Linked DNA regions of Homo sapiens. The protein of the gene in region 1 interacts with the protein of each later gene in a biochemical or structural test. Each region holds a gene or a part of one and is shown on either strand. Other genes may lie near its edges.

Region 1 (15,810 bases):
TGGACATGAAGAGACCTGCTGAAGGGCGCCCGCCTCTCAAAGACCCAGTGGGCCTGGGTGCTCCCGACCCCGCAGGTGTCTGCTGTCACACACTCGCAGGCACGAAGCAATGTGCAGTGCAGCTGCCAGTATCCCCACCACAGAGGCCCACAGCACAGCCCAGGGCAGGCGACTGAAGGAACTGGACAAAAGGAAGCCCCAGAGAAAACACTTCAGGGAAATGCACTGGCCGAGGAGGGCACAGAAGATGGGCTGGGGGCCTCTTCTCTCATGTTTCTCCTTCCCTACAAACTTCGACTGTGGTGGACACCCAAGGCTGCCCCCCATCCCCACTGCAGCCCACATCGGGTCAGGCAGACAGACCCGTTTCCAGTAAATGCTGCCCCAGACACTTTGAAGCAAAGTGTTGGCTGATCGCCACGGTCAAGGCCCATCTGGTGGCTGCAGCCCCTCTTCCCCCACAGCCACGGGCCCCTCCATCCAGGCCCCTGGCTTGCTCAGAAGCTGGGCAGTAAGTGCGGGGCAGCTGGGAAGACACAGGAAAGCTGCAAGGGACACGGTGATGCCTACCTCTTTGCCTCCCAGAGTCGCAGAGTTCATCCTCCTGGAAAAGAGTATACACAAAGTCCGGCAGTGAGCTGGTGTGTCCAGACTCTCCACAACCAGCCCAGTCCCTGGCCACTGCCTGGTGGGCAGTCTCACCCAAGACCTAGGTTGCTATGCCACCAAGAATGAGCCACAGTGTGTTAGGACCAGCCTCCGGGGCTCAGGACAGGGCCTGTGTGTCCTGTTATTACTCCTAGTTGCCTTCAGAGATTCTGTGACAATCACCTTGCTAAAAAGCCATTCACCCACCCTCTCTCGGTTCCTCCTAAGCTGCAGAACTGCCTGCCCCATGACAAAGACCCACCCGTACAATTCTATGAATGGAGCCTGTTCACCAACCGTAGGGAGATAGAGTCTCACTTGGGGGATGCCAGTTCTGGCATTCTTCATAGAAAATGGGTTCCACCACGTTTCCCGAGCTTTTGTTTATATTTACCCAATGTCTTTTTTTTTTTTTTTTTTTTTTTTGAGACGGAGTCTCGCCCTGTCTCCCAGGCTGGAGTGCAATGATGCAATCTCAGCTCACTGCAACCTCTGCTTCCTGGGTTGAAGCAAATCCTCTGCCTCAGCCTCCCGAGTAGCTGGGACTATAGGCGCATGCCGCCACATCCAGCTAATTTTTGTATTTTCAGTAGAGACGGGGTTTCACCATATTGGCCAGGATGGTCTCAATCTTGTGACCTCGTGATCCACCCGCCTTGGCCTCCCAAAGTGCTGGGATTACAGGTGTGAGCCACCGCGCCAGGCCTATATTTACCCGATGTCTTAATAACAATCACGTATAGATAAAAACGATTCAACTGAGAATCTGAACAGAGCTGACTCCTTAGGCAGTGAACATACGGCTAAATTAACAATCAGCAGGTTTACAGAGATTCCTAATCTCAAGACCAGCAAAATAGGGATCAAGTGAGACTCTGAAAACCTGAAAAGCCACCATCTCCTGCCTGTTCCCTGCCTGTGTGACTCTAAGGACTTGGGGAAGGCCCTCCTTCCCACTCTGGACCTCCAGGCCCTACACCTCCAACTTGGATCAGAATCTACACTGGGGTGGCTGAGGCACCTCCCCAAGAGCTTGGGGTGGTCCCGGCTATGAACTGGCCCCACGTGCTGCCTGCCTGTGCCTTGTTGTGAGGATGGAAGGATGAGGACACCAGTCAGCGGCACCCGGCACGGAGCTGGCGGCAAATGAGCCTCCAGCCTGTGCTTGGAGGCTTCAGCCCACAGTCCCTGCACTTACTGGCCTAGAGACCAGGGAGAGGAACTGGGAGCTTTTTTCAGAAAAGGAATGTTTGTTGTAAGTTGAAAACTTTTTTTTTTTTTTTGAGACGGAGTCTCCCTCTGTCGCCCAGGCTGGGGTGCAGTGATGCAACGTCAGCTCACTGCAACCTCCACCTCCCAGGTTCAAGTGATCCTCCTCCCTCAGCCTCCCAAGTAGCTGCTACTACAGGCAAGTGCCACCACTCCTGGCTAATTTTTGTATTTTTAATCGAGACGGGGTTTCACCATGTTGGCCAGGCTGGTCTCCAACTCTCGACCTCAAGTGATCCACCCACCTGAGCCTCCCTAAGTGCTAGGATTACAGGTGTGAGCCACCGTGCCGGCTAAGGTGGAAAACTTTTAGAAATCTAGCTAAAAGTCAGGGTCCTGAATCCACTCAGAGGTAGTCAAATCTACCATGGCAGCTGCTCCTGCCCCTTTGTGAGGAAGGGTGATTAAAGAAAGAAGAAATCCCACACTAGAGGCAAAAGGGCTGCCTGGTGGACTTACACCCTTGAATTCTTCATCTCCTGAGCGGAAGTCACCAGCTGCGTCATCTGCCAGACACAAAGAAAGGAAAAGTCAGTCCCCGGAGAACGGTCCCATCCGGTTTCCGCCCTCCCAAGCTCGCCATCCAGGGTGAGTCTGCCCTGACCACAGTGGGGTTGAAACATGCCACCTGCGAGTGTCCACGACACAGATGGGGCAAGCAGAGCCCCCAGCAGGCAGCCGACCCATCCTACATCTGTCTGGCCCACCTGGCCCCCAGGACATACCATTTTCGGAGAAATCTCCTTCACTGTCAACCCGGGCCAGTTTGGTGTCTGGCTCCTCGTAAAGTTGGAACTGCTTCCGTTTCCTGCCCGTGCCATCTGGTCCGAAGCGGTCAAACCCTCTCCTCTTGGGCTACAGACAACAAGCACACCCCATGAGCTACTTACGAGGGCCATGAAGATGCCCCACAGAAAAGAACAAGGAGGTTGTAGGATCAGACAACACAGGCACAAAAGGTCTTTTCAAAAAGCAAAGAGACAACATAATTTGAAACTAAAAAGAAAATCATGCTGAGTGAAAAGAAGCCAGGAACAAAAGGCCACACGTTTCGCGACTCCATTTGTGCAAAATGTCTAGAACACACAAATCCAGAGACCAGTGGTGGTTGTCGGGGGCTGGTGGGGGCGGGGAAGAGACAGGGGTGACTAATGAGAAGAAGTTTCTCTTCTGGTTGACATAAATGCTAAGATTAGACTGTGATGGTGGGGATGGTTGCACAATCCTGTAAATTAACTAAAAGTCGAACTGCGCACTTAAAAACATTTAAGTGAATGTTGAGATGGGGAAATTTTACCTCAATAAAGCTGCTAAAAAGAGAAGCGAAGGCGGCCGGAAGGAACCTTGCGAGGGCTTACCCGATCCCGATCCCGCATCCGAGGCTGCGAGCGGCCACATCCGTAGGGCATGGTGCTGTCATAGCCGCCCGCCCCCTGCATGCCCATCACGCCGTAGTCGGGAGCCATGGACTGGGAGAAGAGGGACGGAGGTGGCCGGCTGGGGGAGGGCCCTCCCAGGCCCCGTCCACCCACGTAGTTCAGCTCGTTCCAGGGCGTGGACAGGGGCTCAGAGGACGCAGCGGGGGGCACGAAGGGGTCGCTGCGCATGAAGGTGCCAGGGTTGCTCCGGTCCTGGAAGCGGCCCTGGCCCCGGCCCCGCATGAAGCCATCAAGGGAGCCCCGCTCCCGGGCTGGGTCTCGGCATTCACTGTACTGCCCCCCAAAGCTGCCATTGCGGTCGGACCCCAGGTCGAACTCATAGTCGTAGCTGTAGCTGGGGCGGTAGGGGTTGTGCTCCGGCAGGCAGGGCCTGGAGTCATAGGACTCGAACGGCTGGAAGCGGAAGGAGCTGCAACAGAAGCACAGCCCATCAGGGGCGGTCACCCCGATCACCCACTGCCACACTCCCTCAGTATAACCTCGACGCCCCTACATTCAAAACAGCAAACCAAACCACCCTGCATCCCACCTAAGTGCTGGGATGACCAAAACTGACCAACACCCTCCCTGGAACACTGCTGAGCAGGGGACAGAGCCCCTGGCCACAGGAATAGCATGATGTAGAAAAAAGGAGTCTCGGGGAGCTTAGCCAACAACCACGCCCAAGCCCCGCCATGAAGAAAAGCAAGGAAGTCCTACTGTAACATCACTGACCCCCCACGAGCCCAACTCGTCAATGCCACACCCAAGAGGGAGGCGGGGACAGGCCCTCCCTCAAGAGTGGGTGCCCACTCCCATGCGCACAAAGGTGGGGATGTGTGGGGTCCCGGGGGAGGGCTTGGGTCCATAATCACCTCTCCCGGTCCTGTATGCCCTCCCCACCGCCGCCGCTCCCGCCCCTGCCTCCTTCCTTGGACATCATGTCCAAACGCTGGTTGATCTTGGCAATGAGGGAGTCGGAATTGTCGGTGCATGGCTCTGGGCCGTAAGAGGCCATGTGCATGGCAGGGGCCCCGGCCGCCAGGCCGCCATCATTGGCCTTGGCGGCCTCCCACGAGGCTGGGCCGTAGCTGTAGGTTGCGCCTGTGGTGACACTGGTGTTCTGGGCGCCATAGTAATTGTAGTTTTCATAACCTGTCACAGGGGGAGGAGCCAAGTCAGACTTCAGCAGCCACGAGGCCTGTCCATGGTGGACACAACCGGGGAGGGGCACCCGCTGCCACGGAGAAGGAAAACGGGTGTGGGACCCAGTGCTGCTGGCATCACTTCACACTGCACTGTGACCTGCCAAGAGGCAGCAGGAGGTGGCCAGAGAAAGGGGCAGCCTCAGTGCCGAGCGGCGGGTTTTCCATGCCAGACGCTAGGACCTGTTCCCCATTCAAAGCCGGGTGACTGAGAGCCTGGGAACAGCAGTTCCGGCTGCTGACAGGCCCCACAAAGGACCGCTGCTCCCAAAGCACGGTCGCAGTCCTCCCCATCATGCTCCCCTGAGGCCGCCCACCACAGCCCTCTGCAGTCCCCCCATATACACAACAGCAGCCGTGGCTGACTGCGTCCTCAGGAACAGAGCCAGAAAGTCCACGCCAGACCTCCCTGACGGGCTGACCCGCCTGGCCTTCAGATCAGAGGCCCACTTGCCCGCCCACAGACCCCCCCCACAGAAGGGCTTACCTTGCCAGCTGGCCACACCAGTTCCATATGCACCTTAGGGGAAACAGAAACACACAAGAGCCCTGTTTGCAGAACGAAGGCACTGACACCCCAGCTGTCACCTTGCTCCACCCTCCACAGCCCCAGGGCCAGGGCTTCCCTCCGCAGCGCTCAGGGAGACACCCTTGGGTGTTTTTAGCTCACTCAACTCCTACAGAGCACTAGGCTGAGAGGCTGAGCACAAGCAAGCCCTCTATCCCGGGCAAGGCCAACCGTCCGTCAGGGCAAGGGAAGGGACGCCGCACGCTCCCCAGGAAGCTCGTCCACTGTGGGCTGCTGGCCAAGAGGTTGGCCAGGCCAGGCCCCAGGCAGAGACCTCGTAAAGGGTCAGTTCCCATCAGAAGCCAGAGTGCAGGCGCTGCCAACTGCACAGCGAAGCATTGGTGCAAAGTCACGTCCTCAACTCAAGCGAAAAAGAGGACGTTATGTGCCACGAGCGACTTGGAAGGCCTCCTCCTGAAACACCGGGTGGTGGCTCAAAAGCAGCCCCACTCCCCATGTTGCCTGAGTCAGATCTCAGGCTCAGAAAACAAAGGAAGCCCTCGTGCCCTAAAACACGGGCTGGCAGAAAGGAGAAAGCCTCGCCAGCAGAGAGCATGCACTGGTTCGCCACACAAGCCTAGCATCATGGCCCTGACTCTAAAGCAGGGATCTGCAAAAAGTCCAGCCACACCCAGCCCACTTCCCGCCTTGGCACAGCCCTTAGGATTTTCGAATTTCGGTGCCCATAAATAAGTACCAGCACACTGCCCGTAGCCCTGTGCTCTCAGGCTCTGCCCTCAGCTAAGGATGAATTTTACGTTTTTAAATGGTTGGGGTAAAGTTTCTAAAGTGTATTCAATGACAAATTTTGACATGAGATACATCACTTACACACTGGATCAAAACTCAGAGAACTATACAAATTAACAAAAACTATGAGCTATAGTGAATAATATCACATCAACATTGCCTGATTAATTGTAACAAATGCATCACACCAATGCAAGATTTTTTTTTTGTTTTTTTTTTTTGAGATGGAGTCTCGCTCTGTTGCATGGGCTGAAGTGCAGTGGCGCGATCTCGGCTCACTGCAAGCTCCACCTCCTGGGTTCACGCCATTCTCCTGTCTCAGCCTCCGGAGTAGCTGGGACTACAGGCGCCCGCCACCGCGCCCGGCTAATTTTTTTTGTATTTTTAGTAGAGACGGGGTTTCACTGTGTTAGCCAGGATGGTCTCGATCTCCTGACCTCGTGATCTGCCCGCCTCGGCCTCCCAAAATGCTGGGATTACAGGCGTGAGCCACCGTGCCTGGCCTTTTTTTTTTTGAGACAGGGTCGTGCTCTGTCACCCAGGCTGGAGTACAGTGGCATAATCACAGCTCACTGCAGCCTTACCTCCTGGGCTCAAGCAATCTTCCTATCTCAGCCTTCTGAGTGGCCGGGACTACAGGCACGCACTGCCACGCCCCACTAATTTTTCATTAGTTGGATAAAAGGATCACTTGAGCTCGGGTCTCGAACTCCCAGGCTCAAGTGAGCCTCTTGCCTCAGCCTCCCAAAGTGCTGGGATTGCAGGCGTGTGCTGCCTCGCCCAGCTAATGAAAGATCTTACTAATGAGGCCAGGCGTGGTGGCTCACGCCTGTAATCCCAGCACTTTGATTATGGGATTGATTATGAGGTCAGGAGTTCGAGACCAGCTTGGCCAACATGGTAAAACCCTGTCTCTACTAAAAATACAAAAATTAGCTGGGCGCAGTGGTGGGTGCCTGTAATCCCAGCTACTCGGGAGGCTGCGGCTGCAGTAAGCCGAGATCACACCACTGCACTCCAGCCTGGGCAACAGAGCAAGACTCTGTATCAAAAGAAAAAAAAATCATACTAATGAGATTTTTAGTACACTCACTACAGGTGTAGTGTACACTCAGTACACCTGAGTGGAGGTGGGTGGGCGTATGAAACTCCACTACTCAATCTAAAGCTGTACTAAAAAGTCTGGTAATTATAGAGAAAAAACACCTCGGATATACCCTCAGCTATTTACTCAGAATAACAAAAATATTTTGCCAAAATAGAGTATTCACTAACACGCAAAAATTAGGAACTTCAAATTGTATTGTCTGTAAGTAACTACTGGCATTGTCCCATCCACTCTTTCACACATTTATGACTGCTTTCCTGCTACAGAGACTGTGGAGCCCATAAAGCCACAAAGATATTCACTATCTGATCTTTTACACAAAGTTTGCTGACCCCTGGGCTACTACTCTCCCTTGACCCAAGTTCAGCTCTGCCATGCTAGGGCCTTGAGTTAGGGGAAGCCCACGCCTCACCCGCAAAGCAGAGCCCACTTACCCTGGGTGTTGGCAGGTCCAGCACTCCACGCCCCGTAGCCTGCAAGAAGACCCCGTGAGTTAAAATTCTATTTGTCACACCAGAGAACGGGTCCTTTTGGGGGTACTCCTAAAGGGATCTCCTTACAGTTCAGTGCCAGCCTTAGAAGAAGGAAGACTCCCCCCCACCCCACCAAAAAAAAGCCATCACACAACTGGCTAATGGCGTCATCGCATTCCACCTGGCTGAGATCAAAGCAGAAAAAGAAGGGTGGGAAGTGGGCTTGGAAGTCAGCTCCGCCCTGCAGAGGGACCTTGGCCAAGGACCTCACCTCTCCAAGATTTCATCCACAACTGAGGCTAACACAAGACAATCCACTCAGCATGAGGACACGTTCCCCCACCCACCACACAGCTAGGAAACCAGTTCAGAGTGCCATCACAAGTACTTCGTAACTGAAAACAAGCATGGGAATTTAGTGACATAAATTGCATCTTTCTAAGCTGCACTTCCTGCCACTTTTTGTTTTTTTGAGGCGGGGTCTTGCTCTGTTGCCCAGGTTAGAGCGCAGTGCCGCGATCTCGGCTCACTGCAAGCTCCGCCTCCTGGGTTCACGCCATTCTCCTGCCTCAGCCTCCCGAGTAGCTGGGACTACAGGCGCCTGCCACCACGCCCGCCTAATTTTTTGTGTTTTTAGTAGAGACGGGGTTTCACCATGTTAGCCAGGATGGTCTCGATCTCCTGACCTCGTGATCCGCCAGCCTCGGCCTCCCAAAGTGCTGGGATTACAGGCGTGAGTCACCGCGCCAGGCCCTTCCTGCCACTTTTAAGGCCTCCACGGATCCCCTGGACCTTTAAGTCCCAGAGCCTTCGCCTGGCCCTAAGGCATCAGACAGCACTCTTCACCCCTCCACACCCCCCGCCCACTATGGCATCTGTCTGGTCCCTCCAGGAAGGAGAATGGGAACTGTGTTCTCTTTATTTCTGTGTCCCTGGGGCCCAGCACTGAGCTGCGCGCGGGTGGCCACCATGCCTGTTAAATGACTTCACTTTGATGAGGCAGGAACATATCCATGTCTCCCTCACCAGAACAACTCCCCCGCCCCCGGCTAAGTGCCTAGTGCGTGCCGATACACCGCAAGCACCCAGCAAACCCTGTTGTCCGGAATGCCATTCAGAGACAAGGGAGCTAGGCTCATGGGTTACGAGACTTGACCCAGTCATACTGCTGAGTTTTGCCCTCTGCTATGCTACGCCTTCCCCTCCGTCATACCGCAAAACCTTCTAAATTCGCATCCGTGCAGCAGAAAGGCAGACTGCAGATTCCAACAGCAAGTAACCAACCTCGAGAGACTGCTTCTCTGTGAAGCTCTAGTGTAAGTGGCACGCACTATTAACCTTAAAACGCTCCCGGAAACACAAGAAATCAGGGAAGCTTAACTATCTCCAGTGTGTCTGAAAGGTTTTCGGCAGGTAGGAAGAGGGGGTAAAAAAAACCTCTCCAAACTAAGAATGAAAAGAAGGAATACAATACCTGCAGAAAAGATCTGATGGGAAAGAAGGGAAAGAATGGTGAAATCTACCCAGGCTGCGGAAGACCAGGAGAGCCAGGCTGAGCCTTCGCTAGGACCCGGAAGACACCAAAGCACACCGCGCACGCTGCCGCCTCAGGACCGAAACCTCTCTCTGCAATTTCTGGTGCTGGGATACTTTTGCCCTGCCACTTCTCAAGATCGACAACTTCTCGAGCTCCTGCAGCCAGGATCAGACCACTAGCTTCTCTACAACCAGTCGAGCTCCACCCAGCATGTCCCAACTATCCCCTGTGGGCAAACTTTGCTCCCAAAAGGCTCTGATTCCAGAAGCAGGGAGCAGGCAGCTCGAGAAGATCGGCCCTACTGCAGGCCAAGCGCTAAATCCTAGTGGGGAAAGGACACGTTCCCTCCTGCACAGCCCCTCGGCCCCTCCAGGCCACCACAACAGACTGCCTAAAGGAGAACTGCCAATGTCACCAGCCCCAGGGCACATCAGGTTTCCAGCTTTATACGAACACTCAGCATCTGCCCCTCACCATCCTGTCCCAAGCCAGCACGCGCCGGGTACAGAGCTGGAGCCCGGCGAGGCTGACTCTCGCGCCGGCAGCACTCGGCCCCACCGCGCTGCACCGGGGACTAAAGGCCCGACCCCGCGCAGCCCGACGGCTTCCGGGACAGGCGCCCTGGGCCACGTGAGCCCAGCGGAGACCCTACACGGCCCCGCGGGCCTAGGGCAGGTCGGGAGAGAGGCGGCCCCCGCGGTCCGCCCGCGGCCCCAGACCCAGCTCCCCGGGTCCGACCTCACAACCCCACGCTGTAGCTCCGCCCCCCTAGCGCCGCCATTTTGTGGCGTCTTCGGAAGAGGAAGCCGGGAGTGCAAACCCCGGGGTCGCTGGGGGCCGGAAGGACTCCGCCGAAGGTGAGGGGCAAAAACGGCCCACACTGTCTAAGACGCCCCCACGAAGCCCACCGCGGCGTCTGCCCCAACCCCGAGTCCCGCCCGCCTCCTCGGGGCCTGGCGGCCAATCCGCACGCAGAGCCCCGGGAGCGACGGCGCCAAAGCCCAATGAGCGGCGCGCGCGCGCCCTGGCCGCCTCTCCGGAGGGCCCAGCTGGGGCAACCACGCTCGGGACGAAGGCCCGGCCGGCGGCAGTCTGCGCAGCGGCTGCGTCGCCCGCACAGAGCCTTCCCTCCCCGCTCCGCACCCAGCAGCCAACACAAACCTCCGTAGCCCTGGTCCATGTCTTCGACGCGGCCCACCAGCAGCCCCGTTTACTAGGCGACCACAGCACGCATGCGTTCAGCGCACCTCCGCCATCGACTACTGGAAGACCAGGCGCACACGTCACTACTTCCGCGCGCCCCCATTGGCTGGTCTTCACGAGGGCCCGCCCTCGCCGTCCCAGCTGGCCTTTCGGGCTGCTACGATCCAGCTCCGTGGCCTAATGGGAGTTGTGGTCCCACCGCGGTGCCCGACGGCCCGGCCCGCGCGCATGCGCACCCCGCCCCTCTGCCCACCCCGCCCCGCCCGCGCGGCACAGTAACAGAGAAACCCGGAGGTGGGATGGGAAAACTTTATTAGGTTTGGTTTCCAGCTTCGGCCACGCGGGCTCCGCCCGCCCCGAGCTCGGGTCACGGGGCGCCCCCGCCGCCCTCCTCGTCGTCCTCCACGTCGAGGCCCGGGATGCCGCGGATCTGGCGTTGCAGCGCCCCTCCCAGCAAGGGCACGGCGCCCTCCTCCTCCTCCTCTGGGGGCGGCGGCGGTGGCGGCGACACGGCCCCGGGGGCTGGCTCTGGGGGCACGGGAGGCTGCGCCGGCACGCCCTCTGCGCCCTCCGAGATCCCTGCCGCTTCGCCCTGCGCCCCCTCGTCCAGGGCACCGCCCTCAGCCTCCTCCTGCTCCTTCTCCTCCTCGGGGCTGTCGGTGAAAGGGTTCTCGCCCTGTGGGGAGGGGCGCGGACACTGAAGGGAGGGAGCACAGGCGGGGACTAAGCTGGGGACAGGGCAGGCCCGGACCAGTGCCTCACCTTCAGGTAGCGCTCCAGCTTCTTGCTGATGAGCTTGTTGTTGAGAATACTGCGGGCCACCATGAGGGAGGACTTCTTGGACTGCTCCATCATGAGCTGCGGGCAGGGCAGAAGGAGCTGGAGAGGCTGCTCTGAGTGCCCTACAAGTTGCTGCCCCGACCCTGCCAGCTTAGAGGGACCCCACCCCGCCCCTGCACCCACGCACTTCCAGCCCCACCAACGGAGGGCCACTCCACAAGCATGGAACCACAACCTATCTGATCTTTGTTCAAATTCCCTCTCCTTCCACACCACACTTACTGTAGGTAAATAAAAATACAGATCTATATATCTCTAACTTTACGGCTGTATTACAGAAATCTGATTTGCTTACAAAAAAGCTATAAGCAGTGAACAATTAAGAAACTAAGAGCCAAAGGTGGGTGCAACCTGTAACAAGGTGCCAACTAGGCTAATAGGCAAGGAGCACTTTGGGGCCAACGGGGAAGATATAAAAACAGGAACAGATATTTAATGAAACGTCTTTTTTAACCCACAGAATTCCAAGAATGAAGAATTATTCCCAGTCATGCAAGGGTGAAGAGAGTCTTCTCTGCTGGTGGGAGGATCAACTGTTTCCGTATTTTTTGGAAAGCAGTTTGACACAATGTATGAAAAGTAAAAATCTGTCTCATTAATCCCTTCCCAGAACGTATCCTAAATTTAAGAACTGGAAACATGCGTGCACACTGATTGTAGTGGTGAAAAATGGGAAAACACCTAAACGTTCCTCAGTGCAGAAGAGGTTAAATAAATCGTACATTCAAAAGAACATCATGCAGCCCTTCAAATCGGGCTCATCTCTGCACTGGCATAAGAAAGGTGTATAATATAGTACTGTCTGCAGAGCATGCCAGAGCCATTTTGTCTGGAAGGATTTCCATCAATATGCTGGGCCATCTCATGGTGGGAGTACAGGCAAATCTCACTTTGATCATTATAAAAACCATAAGGTAAAAGAAGGATATTTTTGGTGGGGTGGGAGAGCCCATTGAGTCCTTCCCACTCCATTTACATGTTTCAGAAAGCCTTCTCACTTGCTGTTTCTACTCTCTCCATCTTCATTTTTTTTTTTCCTTAGCACGTTTTCTCTACTACTGGAGGAAAATATTAACAGACATCATACATGCTCACAATAAACTAAAGATACACAATTAGGATACTACTATAGACCGTTCCCCCAGTGACTCTCACTTGCCAACAGTTTATCCTCCTGGTTCTAGATGCCCAGATAACCACACCATAAATTCTCCCAAGTGAGGCACATTTATGTTGCTTCCAGATCTTCTCCACAATAACCCAGCAACACTAGAATAAACTTGTACACTTCCATGCTGGTGCTTTTCATTCTAACCAGGTTTGGTTTCAAAGTGATAGTGCCCAATTAACTGCAGAACATTTGCAAGTCATGCTTCTTCCACCTGTGTTAAAACAATGACCTGGTCCTCCTGCCTGCCCATCAGCACTGGATGTTGTCACTGTTGGGTATTTTTGCTGTGGATAAAAGACAGAAGAATCTGTGCTGCTGCCTCCCACGGCATTTCCCTGCCCACCGGCGAGTGAGTGCTCTGGTAAGCACACTGGAACACCCGCCCACAGTTTATAATTTTCTAACTATTTTCTGATCTTGGTTTTCATTTTTCACATTTAAATTTTTTTTTTTTTTTTTTAAGACAGTCTCGCTCTGTCGCCCAGGCTGGAGTGCAGGGGCTCTCAGTTCACTGCAACCTCCGCCTCCCAGGTTTAGGCAATTCTCATGCCTCAGCCTCCTGAGTAGCTAGGACTACGGGCACGCACCACCACACCCAGCTACTTTTTTGTATTTTTAGTAGATACAGGGTTTTCCTATGTTGCCCAGACTGGTCTTGAGCTCCTGAGCTCAGGACCTCCACCCATCTCGGCTTCCCAAAGTGCTGTGATTACAGGCGTGAGCCACCACGCCCAGCCAAATTTTCTAGAATTTGATACAGATTGAGTATCCCTTATTCAAAGTGCTTATGACCAGAAGTCTTTCAGATTTTGATTTGCATTATACTTACCAGTTGAGCATCCCTACTCCAAAAACCCAAAATCTGAAATGCTTCAATGAGCATTTACTTTGTCATGTCTGTGCTGAAAAAGTCAGATTTTACTGGGCACAGTGTCTCGTGCCTGTAGTCTCAGCTACTCTCATGAGGCTGATGCAGGAGGATTGCTCAAGTTCAGGAGTTCAAGGCTATAGTGTGCAATGATTTCACTTGCGACCAGCCACTGCACTCCATCCTGCACAACATGGCAAGACTCAATTCTTTTTTCTTAAAGAAAAAGGTTTTGGATTTCGGAGCATTTCGGATTTTCAGATGACGGATGAACTCAATCTGTATATGTTATGAGGTAGAGGGTCCAAAATTTTCTTTTCCAGAAATGTACAAAACACACCATTTATTTCCCTACCAAATTGGCATATAGGTCTACCATCCCTTATCTATAAACTGGAAATCCAAAAGGCTCTAGAAAACAAGTCTTCCCCCAAAATTCATTTGGTGGCTAAATGTGAACTGACATTACATTTTTCATTTATATGTAAGTCATGTGAAGAATTATTTGTGACTCAACTACAAGGCGCTTTCCCCAGATCCTGTTGGAGAGGTTAGTGCTAATACCATATTGTCTTTCTTTTTATTTTATTTTAGAGATAGGAGTCTCACTCTGTTGCCCAGGCTGCACTGCCATTGTGTGATCACGGCTCACTGCAGCCTCAAACTCCTGGGCTCAAGTGATCTTCCCATGCTAGCCTCTTGAGTAGCTGGGACTATAGGCACTCACCACCATGCTTGGCTAATTTTTTATTTTTTGTAGAGACGAGATCTCACTATGGTCAGGAACTCCTGGGCTCAAGCAATCCCACCTAAGCCTCCCAAAGTGCTGGGATTGCAGGTGTGAGCCACTGCCCCCAGCCTTGCATATTGGTTTTCTGAAGCTGAAAAATTAATTCTGAGGCTTCTGGCCCTAAGGTTTCAGATAAAATATCTGTACTAACTTTAACAAATTACTAAGTCTGAAATATACTGAGATCTTTTGCTAGACTCTCTATTCTGGTTCCACTGTTTCATTACTGTGCTAATTATCACTTTTTTTGTTTTTTAATTGCAGCAGCTTTGTAGTAAGTTTTAGTATTTCTGAAATCAATCTCTCAGCTATTGTTAGACTGAATTTTACAATGTAAAACTTTAAAATAATTTCATTTCATTCAGTCCTACTCCCCGACTGATATTTTTGACTAGAAATGTGCTGTCTATATTAATTTGGAGAGAACTGGTTTTTGTTTTGTTTCACTATTAAATTGCCTATTTAAGAACACAGAACATTCCTCCATTCATTAAGGTCTATTTCTTTTTTTTTTTTTTTTTTTTTTTGAGATGGAGTCTTGCTCTGTTGCTCAGGCTGAAATGCAGTGGCATGATCTCAGCTCACTGCAACCTCCACCTCCAAGGTTCAAGCAATTCTCTGCTTCAGCCTCCCAAGTAGCTGAGATTATAGGCACCCACCACCCCACCCGGCTAATTTTTTGTATTTTTAGTAGAGACAGGGTTTCACCATCTTGGCCAGGCTGGTCTTGAACTCCTGACCTAGTGATTCACCTGCCTCCGCCTCCCAAAGTGCTGGGATTATAGGCGTGAGCCACCGTGCCCGGCTAAGGTCTTATTTCATATCCTTGGAGTATTTGCAGTTCTTAAAAGATCTCAAGCCTTTCTTCTTCCCTCCCTGTTTTTTTTTTTTTTGAGACGGAGTTTTGCTCTTGTTGCCCAGGCTGGAGTGCAATGGCGCGATCTTGGCTCACTGCAACCTCCGCCTCCCAGGTTCAAGCGATTCTCCTGCCTCAGCCCCCTGAGTAGCTGAGATTACAGGCGCCCACCACCACGCCCAGCTAATTTTTTGTATTTTAGTAGAGACAGGGTTTCATTATGTTGGCCAGGCTGGTCTCAAACTCCTGACCTCAGGCAATCCACCCGCCTCAGCCTCCCCAAAGTGCTGGGATTACAGGCATGAGCCACCATGCCTGGCCCTCAAGTCTTTCTTCTTAAATCTGTATTCTTAGCTATTTCATACATTGTGTGGTTATTTTAAGTAGTTTTTTTTCCATTTAAATTTCTAACTGGTTAATACTAGAATAGAGAAACACTACGACTTTTTGTACGCTATTTTGAATCCCATCCCCTTACCAAATTCTATTAATTCTAAGAACATTTTGCTGGGATCATTCAGCTTTTCTAAGAGCATAATCACATTATTTGCACATAAAGAGAGTTTGCATTATACCAATAATATTGCTAGATTTTTTGTTTTTGTTTTTGAGACGGAGTCTCGCTTTGTCGCCCAGGCTGGAGTGCAGTGGCGCGATATCAGCTCACTGCGAGCTCCGCCTCCCAGGTTCATGCCATTCTCTTTTTTTTTTTTTTTGAGACGGAGTCTCGCTCTGTTGCCCAGGCTGGAGTGCAGTGGCGGGATCTCGGCTCACTGCAAGCTCCGCCTCCCGAGTTCACGCCATTCTCCTGCCTCAGCCTCCCAAGTAGCTGGGACTACAGGCGCCCACCACCACGCCCGGCTAATTTTTTGTGTTTTTAGTAGAGACGGGGTTTCACCGTTTTAGCCGGGATGGTCTCGATCTCCTGACCTCGTGATCCGCCCGCCTCGGCCTCCCAAAGTGCTGGGACTACAGGCGTGAGCCACCGCGCCCGGCCTTTCATGCCATTCTCTTGCCTCAGCCTCCCGAGTAGCTGGGACTACAGGCGCCCGCCACCACGTCTGGCTAATTTTTTGTATTTTTAGTAGAGATGGGGTTTCACCGTG
Region 2 (15,105 bases), on another chromosome or scaffold:
AATGGTCTTTATAGATGAGGGGGCCACTGGAGTGCTTACTACTGAGTGTTCGGCTCTTGTATCCACTAAAAACTTAATGTCCTTGCCCCTTATTGTCATCCTGACCATGGGCTCCTTGGGGGCATTTGAGCCTGTTCCCCTTAATTCTAGCAGCCCCTCAGCTAGATTGAACAAAATCCTTTCATCTTGGTTTGAGGTCTTTGGCTCTGCATCACTCTGATTTTCTTTGAGTTGGGGACATTTATCTTTCTAATGTCCTATTTCTTTACAGTAGGCACATTAGTCATGCTGCAAATGTGAGTGATTGGACAGGGCATTCCTCCCAGAACCCCCTTTTTTCTGCCTTTTCAGGAGAATTCCTCTAATTGTCACAGCCAGCAAACTAGCGTTTCACCTGGCCTGGCGTTCGCCCTCCTTACGGCTTTCTTGGCCGCTTGTTGCATCTCTATTTACAAATACTTCATTAGCTCTTTCCAGTAACTGCAAGGTTTTCATTCCTGCAAACCTAGCCTGTTTTTGCAATTTTCTCTGGATATCTTCTGCACTCTGAATAACTAAGGCCGTATTAATCAACGGCTGATTTTCAGGACTCTCCAGATCGAAAGGAGTGTACATGCAATAGGCCTCACACGGTCTTTGATAGAACTGGGCTGGGCTTTCCTCCTTTCCTTGGATGACTTCAGAAACTTTATTTACATTGGTACCCTTTTGAGCCCCTTTTTTCAACCTTTCAATTAATGCCTCTCGGTACCCTCTTAGCCTTTCCATATCTGGTCCTTCATTTGGATCCTATTGAGGGTCCGTTCCTGGCAGCTGAATTCTTATGTATTCTTGGGGACTTTGATAATTGGCTGGGATGTGCTCCTCCAGCCATTTAACTGTTGCCTGCAGCACCTGTTGCCTTTTATGTGTTTTAAAGAGGTACATGAGTAGCTGGTGGCAATCAGCCTAAGTAGGATTCTGAGTCTGGATAATTCTTTGAAGCAAGTCAATTAGGGCTTGAGGCTTTTCAGTGTAAGATGGAGTGTTATTTTTCCAGTTGAGTAGTTCAGCAGAGGTAAAAGGGTGATACACAAAAGCATGCCTTTCTACCGTATGTCTGACCTCATCTGTCCTAGTATATCGCTGCTCTCTCAGGGCATTTGAATTCCCGTCTTGGGCCGTTAAGCGGGCTGCCAGGGAAGTGGATTTTCCCGCAGTTTCACTTTTGTTCTTGTCTACTCTGGGTGGTCTAGGGGCTGTGGGCTCAGGAGAAGGGGGCCTCCCCACTGGATAAGGGGTTGAGGGCACTGTTGGTGCCATCTCCTGCCTTGAGTCCTCGAGCTCTGGGTCAAACAGAACTTTAGGTGCTGGCTTCTCTTGGCCGGTGGAGCGAGAACTTTCCTGAAATAAATGTCCCTTTGCTACTACTACTGCTGCTGCCTGTCCTTTTACCACTGTAGAGGATCTAAAACTAGCTGTAACTAGGAATCTCTATATGGAAATTGATATGGGTGCAGGCACACCATGAGCGATCAGGCCAAGCTTCCGCTCAGGTGGAGTGGGGCAAGTTGAAAAGACTTGTCTTACTAAGTTTCAGATGTCTGGACTCCAAGTGCCAGTTCCTTCCTGGTGTTCAGCCACTGTGTTAATCCTCCGCGGGGATCACTGCTCTGGCGAGGCGTTCAACCGGGGCCATTTCCTACCTGGGAGCGCTCTTTGGATCCCATCCCTCAGGCTGGCCAGAGTCCCTGGCAGCCTGAGGGATGCCCCGGCCTTACTCCACAAGGCATGCCTAATCTGCCTAAGGAGCTGCCTCGGCCGTCCATCAGTTATCTTGCTTCCAGGTCAGGGAACCAAGAAATGTAGCAGGACAAGCGGCAGACAAAACTCTCAGACACCGAGTTGTAGAAGGAAGGGTGTTATTCACCTGGGAGCATCGGATAGCTACTGTCTCAAAATCCGAGCTCCCCAAGTGCACAATTTCTGTCCCTTTTAAGGGCACACAACACTAAAGATGTCACATGAAAGGGTCGTGATTGATTTGAACAAGCCAGGGATATGCGACAAGGACTACATGCACCCGTGGTCAGGGAGAAACAGAATATGGAAGGGAGTTTCACAATGTTCTTCTATACAATGTCTGGAATCTATGAATAACATCGGCTTCTAAATCATAAGTTGATTTGTAACTACTGGGTTTAGGCCAACCAGGCCCAGGCCTGGTTTTGTGCCTTTGATTTTGCTTCCTTGTTGTTTTTACTGAATAGAAAACAATATAAAACAAGAGGACAGGGTCTTTCTCTCTTCTCAATATCAGCACTGGATTGTAGAACTTGTTGCTGATTTTGGCCTGGCATTCAAGTTAACTCTTCCCCTTGGTATCTGTACATACCTTTGATGTCAGTGTTTAGTACACGTGGCTTGGTCACTTCATGGCTAAAAACGTGCTTGTGGAAGACAAGTCTGGCTTGGTGAGTCTGTGTGGTCAGCAGTCTCTGATCCGTGCAGGGTATTAATGTGTCAGGGCTGAGTGTTCTGAGATTTATCTAGAGGCTGGGAAGGGCTCCTGAACCAGTTGTTTCCGTCTTGTCGGTCTGTCAGGGTTGGAAAGTCCAAGCCATAGGACCCAGTTTCCTTTCTTAGCTTACGTTATCTACCAGAGCACCGTGGGCTGTTACTTGCCTTGAGTTGGAAGCGGTTCGCATTTATACCGGTAAATGTATTCATCCTTTTAATTTATGTAAAGTTTTTTAGTATGCAATTCTCGATCTTTTAAGAGTTGACAACAAATTTTGGTTTTCTGCTGTTATGTGAGAACATTAGGCCACAGCAACATGTCATTGTGTAAGGAAAAATAAAAGTGCTACCATATGCAAAAAAAAAAAAAAAAGAAAAGAAAAGAAACATTAATGTCTAAGAGGTCATTGAGATGATTTCCATGAGAGACTTTTTGATGTTCTTCACCAGTTAGGATTATTATTGATAATCCTTTTCAGATTATGAATAAACAGTTTGCCCTCAAGTATTTATTCATGCTACTATTTACATTGTAAAATGTGCTTCTTACAGGAATATAAATAGTTTCTGGAAAGGACACTGACAACTTCAAAGCAAAATGAAGCTCTTTTGGTTGCTTTTCACCATTGGGTTCTGCTGGGCTCAGTATTCCTCAAATACACAACAAGGACGAACATCTATTGTTCATCTGTTTGAATGGCGATGGGTTGATATTGCTCTTGAATGTGAGCGATATTTAGCTCCCAAGGGATTTGGAGGGGTTCAGGTGGGTATGATTCATAGTATCAATTGCAGAATTCACTGTGCTTGTAGTAAACACTATTCTGATCTTCTACGTGAAGCTTGGGCAACATTTTACTTCACAGGTAAGTATTCTAAGTAAAAGAATTTTCTGAGGAAAAAACAATGTAGTATTCTTTGCAACTGTATATTTTGTTTCTGATATAATCTTTCTTCAACAAGAGCCCTCCGATGTGCTGTTAATATTTTCAAGAGATAGCTGCCTATACCAAGATTCAAGAATCTTTTGTATTATTGATTAGATTCTAGAACATTCAATGATATACAGTAAGACAGAATTTGGTACTTATGAAGACTGTTTAATTTGTAGGTCTCTCCACCAAATGAAAATGTTGCCATTCACAACCCTTTCAGACCTTGGTGGGAAAGATACCAACCAGTTAGCTATAAATTATGCACAAGATCTGGAAATGAAGATGAATTTAGAAACATGGTGACTAGATGCAACAATGTTGGGGTAAGTGAATTCTAGTTTCCTTTAAAAATAACAGATAGGAAAATGATTTCTGTCTCTTCTTTCTTGCTCCTTTTGAGCAGAAAGTTTTCCATATCAGTTTTAATTTTACTTCATACTTTAAAACTCAAAAGTAACTGTCACCTTATGTTCAATTTTTGAAAATATTTGTATATGTGCTCTCTACTAAAGAGATAAGTTAAAGTTTATAGCAGAGTTTACTTCTGAAGCAAAACATCAAATTTTAACCGCTATAACTATCCATATTTCCTGGAAGGATTTTCTGGTGAGGAATTTTAATTCCAGTTACAATATTTGCTCTCATTTTTAGATGACTTGTGTCTCCATTCCTAATTCTTGGGTTTTTTTTGTGGTGAATAGGTAGCTTATCTATTTAATGAGGAGCAGAATTTGAGATGAATAGCTACCTTATTTGTCTTCCAAGCTTAGTAGAGAGTACAGGCTTTCTCCTGGTGACCCACTGAAATTTCCCAAATAGTAACCTTTTCAGTCTCATCTGAGTTGTGTCTCCCCAAAATGGGCTTTTTGCCTTTCCTCCTATTTATGGTAGTTTCCGGTTCTCTCAGTTTATCATTCCTATATATATTTGGCCAAGTGTCTGGAATGAATGTAGGTGTTTAGTTCACATTACTTTCCTTTCACAGTTGATTTTTGATCTTGTAGGAAAATAGTTATAAGGTATGAAATATTTTGGAATTTTATTAGCACACTATAAATTTAATCAATAATTCTTTAAATTTCTGCCTCTCTGTAAGTCACACTGAATTAGAAACTTTGTTTTCTAGGTTCGTATTTATGTGGATGCTGTAATTAATCATATGTGTGGTAATGCTGTGAGTGCAGGAACAAGCAGTACCTGTGGAAGTTACTTCAACCCTGGAAGTAGGGACTTTCCAGCAGTCCCATATTCTGGATGGGATTTTAATGATGGTAAATGTAAAACTGGAAGTGGAGATATCGAGAACTATAATGATGCTACTCAGGTAATTTTTTTACGAGAGTGATCTGAATAAGGAGTGATATATGCCTTTTGTTGTAGACATGTAGCTAATTGAACTTCGTTGTAAATATGAATTTAGATCTCTTAGGGACAGAGGTTAACAAGTTTGACTACTTTAAGAAACTCAAATCCATATTTGAAAACCTTTAAATATTGATTTAAGATTTTTAATCAATACACATTTGTCCACTTTTAAAAAGCTCCCAACCAATTGAAAAACTCATCGACTTTATTTCCTAAGTTCTCTATTTTCTATTAGAAAATATTTCCAAGATACATCTATAGTAGAATGTGAGCATCCCCAGTGTCCAATGCAAGGAAGTCACCATAGAATATCTCTTGAGGAATCATGGAATAAATGAATAATCAAATGGATTCTCAGGCGAAAAGTGAGGTTTTATTAATCAATCATAACATTCTTACCTCAACAGGTCAGAGATTGTCGTCTGTCTGGTCTTCTCGATCTTGCACTGGGGAAGGATTATGTGCGTTCTAAGATTGCCGAATATATGAACCATCTCATTGACATTGGTGTTGCAGGGTTCAGAATTGATGCTTCCAAGCACATGTGGCCTGGAGACATAAAGGCAATTTTGGACAAACTGCATAATCTAAACAGTAACTGGTTCCCGGAAGGTAGTAAACCTTTCATTTACCAGGAGGTACGTCAATACATATAGGCATATAAAATATCATCCTATTCATTAGAAAATTCACGGCAGATTCAATTAAAAATGCAATTTCTGTAGGATAAAGACTGAGTCATTTCCTTAAAACAGTGTTCTTTAACCTCCTCTTCTTCACATACAGCATATCTAATTCTTTATCACAACAGGTTTTATGGAGGTACACAGAATGTAGGATACTGATAATAGTTATGTCTTTATTTTCTTTGGAAAATGAAATGAGTTAATATTTATCAAAAAAAGTCAGTCAGATAGTAAATATCGTATTCCTGTGAGCTGTTATTATTATCATTGATGTACAAGACTAAAAATTAGGTAAGTATTCTCACAGGACAACAGGTAACTTTGACATTATGTTTCTTTCAATATTGTAGTGTATACTTTATCAAAAAAAGAATATAAGAATATTACCGATGAAGATAATAAGAATAAGAAAACGATTTTGAGCGTTTCATATAACAAATAGGACCAGGCGTGGTGGCTCTTGCATGTAACTCAGCACTTTGGGAGGCTGAGGCAGGAGAATTCCTTGAGGCCTGGAGTTTGGGACCATCCTGGACGATATAGCAAGACCCTGTCTCTAAAGAACAAAGCACAACAAGTCTAAAATAACTCAGAAATAGCTGAAAGCTAATTTTTATATAATATAAACTTATCGGTTAAAATGCTTTAAAGTCCTTATGCAAAATGTTTTTTTTTCCTAAATTTCTTCTAGGTAATTGATCTGGGTGGTGAGCCAATTAAAAGCAGTGACTACTTTGGTAATGGCCGGGTGACAGAATTCAAGTATGGTGCAAAACTCGGCACAGTTATTCGCAAGTGGAATGGAGAGAAGATGTCTTACTTAAAGTAAATAAATACAACTTTTCCCCTGAACTATTTCATAGATCTGTTAGTCATACTACCCCAGTGCGAGTTATCTTCTGGAACATTCTTATTCAGACAACTATTAAGGAGTCAGTTGTTAATGATAAGTATTCTAGTGCCCTAAACTCTAATCAATCATCTTTTGTATTTAGAGTGTCTGTCACAAGACAGTATGCCTAGGAACGCTAAACTTACCCTAGGAGTTTCTGTCTGCGTACAAGATGAATATACTGGATTTGACTGATGTTTGCATATAATCTTTTAAAGCCAGGTTATTATTAAAATGATCCTATCATTTATAAAGTATGTACAAAGTGTCCATGCTATTGTATTTACTTATACGAATTGGAAATGTAAAATGATTTATATTATAACAATACAATATTAAAGCCTTATTTTAATCTAGTTTGACATTCTGTATAATGTGATGTGGATATTGATCCTTCTGGAGTGCCTCTAAATGATAATGTGCTGAAACCTCTGAAAGGAAATTTTTTAATAACAAACATTTTATATTTGTAATATGAATATAAGTATTCCATACATGTATATACAAATATGGACTATATATATGTAGATTACACACGTGTGTTTGTTTATGAGGTGTGTGTGTATATATATGTGAGTGTGTGTTTGTGTGTGTGTGTGTATATATATATATCTTACAGAGTAACCATCTAATTAGAGAAAGAATTTAATCTTCAGATGCCATGCCTTACAGAAAGAGATGCACAGTAGAGTTACTCTCAAACTATTGTGAAATGATACATCAACGTATATCTTATGTTTCAAAAATAGGAACTGGGGAGAAGGTTGGGGTTTCATGCCTTCTGACAGAGCGCTTGTCTTTGTGGATAACCATGACAATCAACGAGGACATGGCGCTGGAGGAGCCTCTATACTTACCTTCTGGGATGCTAGGTAAAAAACCAAGTTCTCTATTTTTTTAACACCTCTTTTAATGATGGTATGAATATTGTGATATTCTATGATAATATAATTATGTAACTTTCAGGCTGTACAAAATGGCAGTTGGATTTATGCTTGCTCATCCTTATGGATTTACACGAGTAATGTCAAGCTACCGTTGGCCAAGATATTTTGAAAATGGAAAAGTAAGTTTTGGAGTTGTTCAAAATATCCTTTTCTCAAGAAAAAAGAGGCAATCTTCTCCTAATTTAATATGACAACTATTAAGTGTTTATTTATTCAACAAATATTTAATTATTGTAAACCTGATACAGGATTGTGATTTAGTAATGCAGGTTATATTAAAGGAATAAACTTTATATTCTCCATTGAAAAAGAATAGCAAGCTTTTTCAGAGATATGACAAACATCCCCCTAGCCCGCAGGGAAAATAAAAATAAAAATTAAAAAAACCACTTAAAAATAAGAGCTAGGCACAGGGATTAAAATATATACTTCGTACCTTCCTCAGGTTTAATTGGAAGAATATAGATGCCAACCCTTGTAGAGAACTTAAAACATCATCTGCCCGTAGTGAGAACAATATAAATGTCTTTTAAATACTGTTAAAAAGTTATATGGAATAGAAACAAATGATCCAGTTCAGCTGAGTTAAATAGGGAAAGTATACTATAAGAGGAAGGAAATTGTATGTACTAAAGGATAGAAATTTATAGAGAGTATTCCAAGAAAGGTAAGAATGAGAAAAATATTTGGGAGTATGGTAAAGACATCACTCTGCTGAGTAGTTTCAAAAAGGAACAGAGAAATAAGAGTGTAAAGATATTTGGAAAGCTAGTAGAAGGTTTTCTTTTAAACTAAAGGGTTGAGAAACAGCATCAGAGACTTCAGAACTAAAGCAGAAATTCCTCCTTCCTATGAGTCACACAGATATCTAGCTAGCTTTTTTTAGATTCCTTTCAGTTTGAGAAGTCCGCTACTATGTATAACAACTGATTCTATTGTTAAACAGCTTTAATATTTAGAAGGTGTACTTTTATATTGAGACAACTTCTTATAATTTCTACTAATTGGTCTTATTTCTGTTGTTAGGAGTCAGAGAGTTCTTTTATTTTTTCTATTACTATAACATTCCCACTTTGACAGGACTGCTGCATGCTATAAACTCTTAAGTTTTGTTCACTTTTCACCATATGACGTGATTTTAAGGTGAACACTGATAAACTTCCTAGGGTTACTCTGTGTTTTTTAATGAAGATTTCTTAAAGTGCCAATCAGAAAAGCATAATACTAAAAATATGGTCAATTTATAAAAAAAAAATGTTCAGATGTAGTATTTTGTACATTTATCTAAAAAGAAGCATGACGGCCTCCAATATTTATTTAGCATATGTCATGTTCAAGGCATTTTCACATATATTACTTAATTTTTATAGCAAAAGAACTCATTATTCTCATTTTACAAATGAGGAAACTGAGACACAGAGAAATTATTTATATTGATTAAATTTTCTCAGCTACTAGTAATAGAGCCTATGTTTTAATCCTGGTGTTTCTAGTACTAATGCCCTTCCCATTTCAATGCCATTGCATGGCTTACAGTGATGTTAAGAAGCCCTTGCAGGCCAGGTGCAGTGGCTCACACCTATAATCCCAGCACTGTGTGCGGCCAGCTGAGAAGGTCAGCTGACCTGAGGAGTTCAAGACCTATCTGGGCAAGCTAGCAAGACCTTGCCTCTACTGAAAATTAAAAAAAAAAAAAAATTAGCTGGGTGCGGTGGTGCACACCAACAGTCTTAGCTACTTGGGAGGCTGAGATGGGAGGTTCGCTTGAGCCTCGGAGATCAAGGCTGCAGTGAGCTACGATCATGCCACTGTACTCCAGCCTGGGTGACAGAGCAAAGAAGTCTTTGCAGTGCCTTGGAATGAAAAGGAGAGGATAACAATTTGCTACCTTTGTTTGAAATATGGCAAAAGAGAACCAGAGGATAGAGAGATGATGAAGACCCAGTAAAGGGCTATAAAAATCAATGAAGGCATTGGATTCTAGATAAAGTCACTGAATGCAGAGACACAAGTAACAGGATAGGTTGGGTTTGGTTTAAAGGAGAAGGAAGAGATAAATATATATATGCTAAAATTTGGCTTTTCCTCCTGTAATTAAGGATGTTAATGATTGGGTTGGGCCACCAAATGATAATGGAGTAACTAAAGAAGTTACTATTAATCCAGACACTACTTGTGGCAATGACTGGGTCTGTGAACATCGATGGCGCCAAATAAGGTGAGAATATGTATTTAGACATGTCCTCTAATAGTAAATTTCCGTAGCACTTTATTTAAAACAGTTGAAGTTTAAGAATATCAACGTTTTATATGGTATTGTGTTTTTAGGAACATGGTTAATTTCCGCAATGTAGTGGATGGCCAGCCTTTTACAAACTGGTATGATAATGGGAGCAACCAAGTGGCTTTTGGGAGAGGAAACAGAGGATTCATTGTTTTCAACAATGATGACTGGTAAGTAAATATCAATTAAAAATAATATTTTGTACCAGTATGTTCTTGGTTTATTCTTTTTTTTTTCTGTTCATTGACATTTATCATATCTGAAAAATCATGTAGTCAGTGGAGCGAGAAGACAATAGAGATCAAAATTGGGTAGAAGCAAAAGGATGATGGCTGTTACTCCTTCGTTCTCCTGTTTTCATAAGTGCTTTCTGTTGTAAGCAGAATCCTTTCTGTGCACCCTTGCAATATCTTATGCATATATAGAATGCACATTCATATGCTTACCTACACATGCCACAAAATACACAAAGTAATTAATAGAAGGATTGTGAAATCATTAAAAGAACGTTTCTTATAGTCCTGCTCTTTTAATCATGGAAAAATGCTGCCTCAGTACTAAAATATCTTTATTTCTCTTTTTCTCAATGACAGCTCTACCTAGTTTTTTGGTATACTTTCTTCACTTCTCTGTCTCCTTGTGACAAATAACATTTTTAAAGCATATGGATAAATAATATGTATCTTGTGGTTAATGATTTGCTTCAGGAGACTTGAGTTTTAGTTCTGAAACTTCTCATTATTGGCCTTTCATCTGTGATTTTTGTATCCTTTGGCTGTAGTATAAATGATTCCCGAAACTGTAGCTGAGAAGACCTCCTTGCAAACAGTTGAATTGTCTCTGTCCAAGGCCAACTGACACTCATACTTAGCTCACTCTAGTATAAATTATACTTCACTTATGAAAAATAAATAAATACAAAAATATATAAGTCAAGTTGATCTCTTTCCTGCCAAAAAAATGCGTGTCTATTTCCTTAGTTTCCTTCTTTTGTGGATGAAAATACCAAAAAAATCTTTTGTGAAAAAGCTTTATATTTCAAACTATCACTTCCTCATACAAATGCTAGACTGTTTTTATGTACACCCTAAATTCTTTTTGACCTCATGTAGAATAAAAGAAGGTTAAAAAAATAATACCCTTTAAATTTTTAAAGTAATTGGCATTAAGTTCAGTTGAGAAAAAATTTGATTTTACCAAGGTAGCACTTTATCAAAATGTGACCGCTCCCGCCAATCTTCGGTGATATTCTTCAACTTTGATTTTTCGGTTATATTTTCACTACTGAAAAGGAAATTGGTAGGTTTTCTGTAAGGTTACTTTTGGTCCTAGAAAGCTGTTTACACCTACTAGGGAGGCATATGGGTTTTCTTCTTAATGAGACTTCACTGCTTAGGGTTCTAAAACATAAAGTTATGCTGTTTATTTGTGTTAGTCTGTATTCTTGATTTCATTGTTTTGAAGTTAAATCTGAAATTTTATTTTACAGGACATTTTCTTTAACTTTGCAAACTGGTCTTCCTGCTGGCACATACTGTGATGTCATTTCTGGAGATAAAATTAATGGCAACTGCACAGGCATTAAAATCTACGTTTCTGATGATGGCAAAGCTCATTTTTCTATTAGTAACTCTGCTGAAGATCCATTTATTGCAATTCATGCTGAATCTAAATTGTAAAATTTAAAATTAAATGCAAATCCGCAAAGCAATAGCTAAGTGTGTTTCTTTTCTTACATATACAGTAATAGTTACATATCATTAATTTTAAATAAAAGCTCTAATTAGTAAAAAGAGGTTTAAGACACTTGATAGTATGAAATACAATTCCAGGTTACACATAAGTTATTTATTTTGGCAAAAGGATGACTCAAAAATTTTAAAACTAGGCAACAATCTTTACTCATTAAGAGGTAAGACTTAGCTTTCCAAACAGTTTGTCTCCTGTCTACTCTTTTCTCTCCTTGGCATTCTACCAACAAGGCAAACCAAATATTTCATTATTCTTCTCTATTACATGAAAAATCTGTACAAGGGAAGGAAAGCCAAATTTTACCCTTACATAGGTTTCAAAAGAATCCTTTTTCCATAGGCAACATTTACATTTTTATGCCTTTTTATAATCTTTTACCACAAACACATTTAAGTGTTCCTACACACCTTGCATGTAAATTTATTTTTAGTTGTCTTATTTACATATTTTTATGGTCAATCTTAGCAATTTTTAACTTTAATGTAAACCTGGTAAGTTGTTTTAATTATGTACTAGATGCAGATAAAGTCTGACTTTTTCCATTCTAGTTAGGGCATGGTTAATTTCATATGTCCCCAGGCCTTACCAAGTTGTAAAGTAGGCAGCCTACAACCTTGAAATATTTAGCAAGCCTTTTATCTAATTTATGTGATTTAAACCTGCTATTTACATATTGATGATATTTGCATTTTCCAATTTGATCTTTAAAACAGTTTTTATTTCTTAGAGTTTAAAAACACATAAACTAAAAGGCATTACGGTTTTAACTTTCCTCTAAAATATTTGATTTAAGTGCTTATTTTTATTTAAGGCAATCAATTGGTCCTCGTTACAGACATCACACACAACACATATATTGCTACACAGACAAACAGAAGAAGATCCAGTAGCTCTAAGATTTCTTCTCGTCCCATTTCCTAATTGCATTACTGGCTTCCCAGTAGAGCCCTTTAAGAACAGGGATAGCAAACCACGAAGTTTCTAGGGCCTAATCAACTTGTATAGCTGTAAGACAAAAACAGATTTTGAGCAGGATTGATCAGCCTCTAGATTCTGGGATTCCATGAGGAAAACAGAGGTTTCTCCCAAAATGGAATCCATCATGCATTTTCTGTTTTTCCCAAAACGTTTCAGGCCACCAGAAGTTATCTTGTGTGCATTAAGAGTGGAAAGACAGAGTGGAGAACAGTAATTCAGTCAATGGAAAAGTTCTTTTCAAGAAAAACACGATCCAAGAAGACAAAAACATGCAGGTCTTTTAAATATACCTATAACTTGAATATCCACTTTTAATCAAGCTCAGCACCCTTTCAGAAAATCCTTTGACATCTTCTGTTTCCTGACTTTAGCTAAATCAAGCAGGTAATATTTCTGGCTTTTGAATTTTACCAAAGGTAACATCACAGGGGAAACTAAAAACTCTCCGTTAGGTTATAAGTTCACCGTTAGTATACAAGATATTTTATAAGTGGTGGTAAGCAGCTTTTACCAGATCTAGAACCTTTAAAGTCAGTTGAGAGAAAGGAAGATTTCAGAAAGGCAGTTAGAGTTTTTCATGGCGGAGCACGAGATGATTAAACGTCACACAGTTGTTAACTGGAAAGTATTCATCACCCAGGCTGGGATTGAACCTGGGTCACCATTGTAAAAAGGCAACGGCTGAAAAGTGGTACTACCACATGGTTACAGGTTATGCTTAAGGACATAAAACAAGTCGGAGACATGCAGCAAAGTTTGTTACTGACCAGTTTATGAGGGTGTCTTGAACAGTGAGCTCAAGGAGTCTCAGGCCTGGATTCCATTCCAAGGTACCCTCTGTCTGACTTTTTCTTCTATTTTCTCTCCTTTTCCTGAGCCTCCTCCTAGTACGTCTTATGAAAGACTGAGGTGGCTACTCTTAGAAGGTTTTCTAAGGTGCCTTCTAGTCCTATAGCCTGTTTCTGTAGCTTCCTTCAAATATCAGGAGCTGCTTGAGTAAACCTGTCTTTCAAGATGAGCTGTCCCTCAATTGAATTACGAGATAGGGAAGCATGTTTTGCCAAAGTCTCTCTCAGCCTTTATAAAAAGGCTGAGGGATTTTCATCTGGGTTTTGATCTATCATGGATAGCTTAGAGTAGTTAACAGGTTTGGCTCTGGTCCCCTGTAAGACTTCTACCGTATACATCTGAAAGTGTTTCTATTTTTCAATCATCTATGGGCTTAGTAGAGTTCCAATTAGAGTTTTCAAGGGATACTGCCTCTTTTCCTACTGGGAATGGGGATTCTGCCTGTTTCTCACCCTCTTTCCCTTTTTGACTGGCTATAGGAAACATGCTGCTCATCTCTGATTTTTTCTGCTACCTGTAGGGCTGCCTGTCTCTCAACAGCAGTTAGGGTTTCAGAGTAACATAACATCCTTCTAGGAGAGTTTAAATACTTGGGTTATATCCTGGAAGGCCTCTATACATGAGAGAAGTTGGCACTTGCCCAGAGCGAACTTCAGGCTCTGAAGTCTAAAGAATAACTCAAGGGGAATGCAGGCTTGAAGATGGGGTGTTACCCATGCATAAAAAGAGGGGAGTAGAAGGTGTCCCTTAGTCTCCTTTCAACTTTTGAAGTGACCCAGGTTGAAGAGAAAGATTACAGGGGTGTCCCTCTTCTCTTTCCTCCCATCTCCTTTGGGTCCTGGCAACCATCATAGGTGCAGCCCATGGATGCAAGCATGAATTGCACCCATGTATCTGGAGGTGCTAGTTGGCAGGGGTAGTCATGCTTACCAGCACAATGCCTCATCTCACTGCCCTTCTGGGTTCCTAGGCCTCCCAGGAGATTGTACAGTAGATAAAGTTGGGTGAGACACTTTAACAGAGGGAGTGTTTTAACCCTATTCCTGCTTCCTCTAGCTATGGCCCTGGAAAAGCAGTGCATTCCCAGAAAATTTTACCCATTGCCTTTTAAACACAAAATCCCCTTTCTGATTAAATGCCAATGTTGTTGGAAGCAGAACAGGTGCCTCAAAAGAACATATGGATTTAATGGCTGTCCTCCTTCTGATGGGAACAGCACTGAGGCTAGAATTTGTCTCTCAAGGGTGGCTTCCTCCCAACTGTTGAATGCGGAGTTTTTTTCCCTACAAATGGGGCATAGAGTCTGCTTGCTGACAGAGGAACACAAAAGTGGAAGAAATCTGGGTATTAGAGGTTTTTGGCAAAGGGCCAACAAGACTCTATGCAGAAAAAAATCCTATCTCATGAGGTGGTGCTGTAGGTTTTGAAAATTTAGGTAAAATCTGTGACTCTAAATATTGATTAAAAATCTTAAATCAATATTTGAAAGTTCTTAAATATGGATTTGAGTTTCTTAAAGTAGTCAAACTTGTTAACTTCTGTCCCTAAGAGATCTAAATTCCTATTTTAAATGAAATTCAATTAGCTACATGTCTACAAGAAAAGGCATATATTACTCTTTTATTCAGATCACTCTCGTAAAAAAATTACCTGAGTAGCATCATTGTAGTTCTCGATATCTCCACTTCCAGTTTTACATTTACCATCATTGAAATCCCATCCAGAATATGGGACTGCTGGAAAGTCCCTACTTCCAGGGTTGAAGTAACTTCCACAGGTACTGCTTGTTCCTGCACTCACAGCGTTACCACACATATGATTAATTACAGCATCCACATAAATACGAACCTAGAAAACAAAGTTTCTACTTCAGTGTGACTTACAGAGAGGTAGAAATTTAAAGCATTATTGATGCAAG

Evidence for each region.
Region 2: the proteins of AKAP8 (region 1) and AMY1A form a complex in vitro, tested with the Homo sapiens proteins (one study listed by BioGRID).

What each region holds. Positions count from the first base shown.
Region 1 is NC_000019.10:15,369,576-15,385,385, forward strand, and holds the start of AKAP8 (A-kinase anchor protein 8), read right to left. Parts: upstream 10,213-15,810; 5' UTR 10,157-10,212; coding exon 10,138-10,156; intron 7,440-10,137; coding exon 7,401-7,439; intron 5,061-7,400; coding exon 5,028-5,060; intron 4,491-5,027; coding exon 4,211-4,490; intron 3,766-4,210; coding exon 3,276-3,765; intron 2,773-3,275; coding exon 2,643-2,772; intron 2,424-2,642; coding exon 2,377-2,423; intron 605-2,376; coding exon 571-604; intron 1-570. Other genes in the region: AKAP8L (A-kinase anchor protein 8-like), read right to left, coding at 10,547-10,855, 10,942-11,037. UniProt on the Homo sapiens protein: Anchoring protein that mediates the subcellular compartmentation of cAMP-dependent protein kinase (PKA type II).
Region 2 is NC_000001.11:103,653,234-103,668,338, forward strand, and holds AMY1A (alpha-amylase 1A precursor), read left to right. Parts: upstream 1-2,526; 5' UTR 2,527-2,695; intron 2,696-3,051; 5' UTR 3,052-3,097; coding exon 3,098-3,265; intron 3,266-3,610; coding exon 3,611-3,757; intron 3,758-4,560; coding exon 4,561-4,758; intron 4,759-5,206; coding exon 5,207-5,437; intron 5,438-6,176; coding exon 6,177-6,310; intron 6,311-7,126; coding exon 7,127-7,249; intron 7,250-7,343; coding exon 7,344-7,443; intron 7,444-9,423; coding exon 9,424-9,542; intron 9,543-9,652; coding exon 9,653-9,778; intron 9,779-11,097; coding exon 11,098-11,287; 3' UTR 11,288-11,321; downstream 11,322-15,105. UniProt on the Homo sapiens protein: Calcium-binding enzyme that initiates starch digestion in the oral cavity.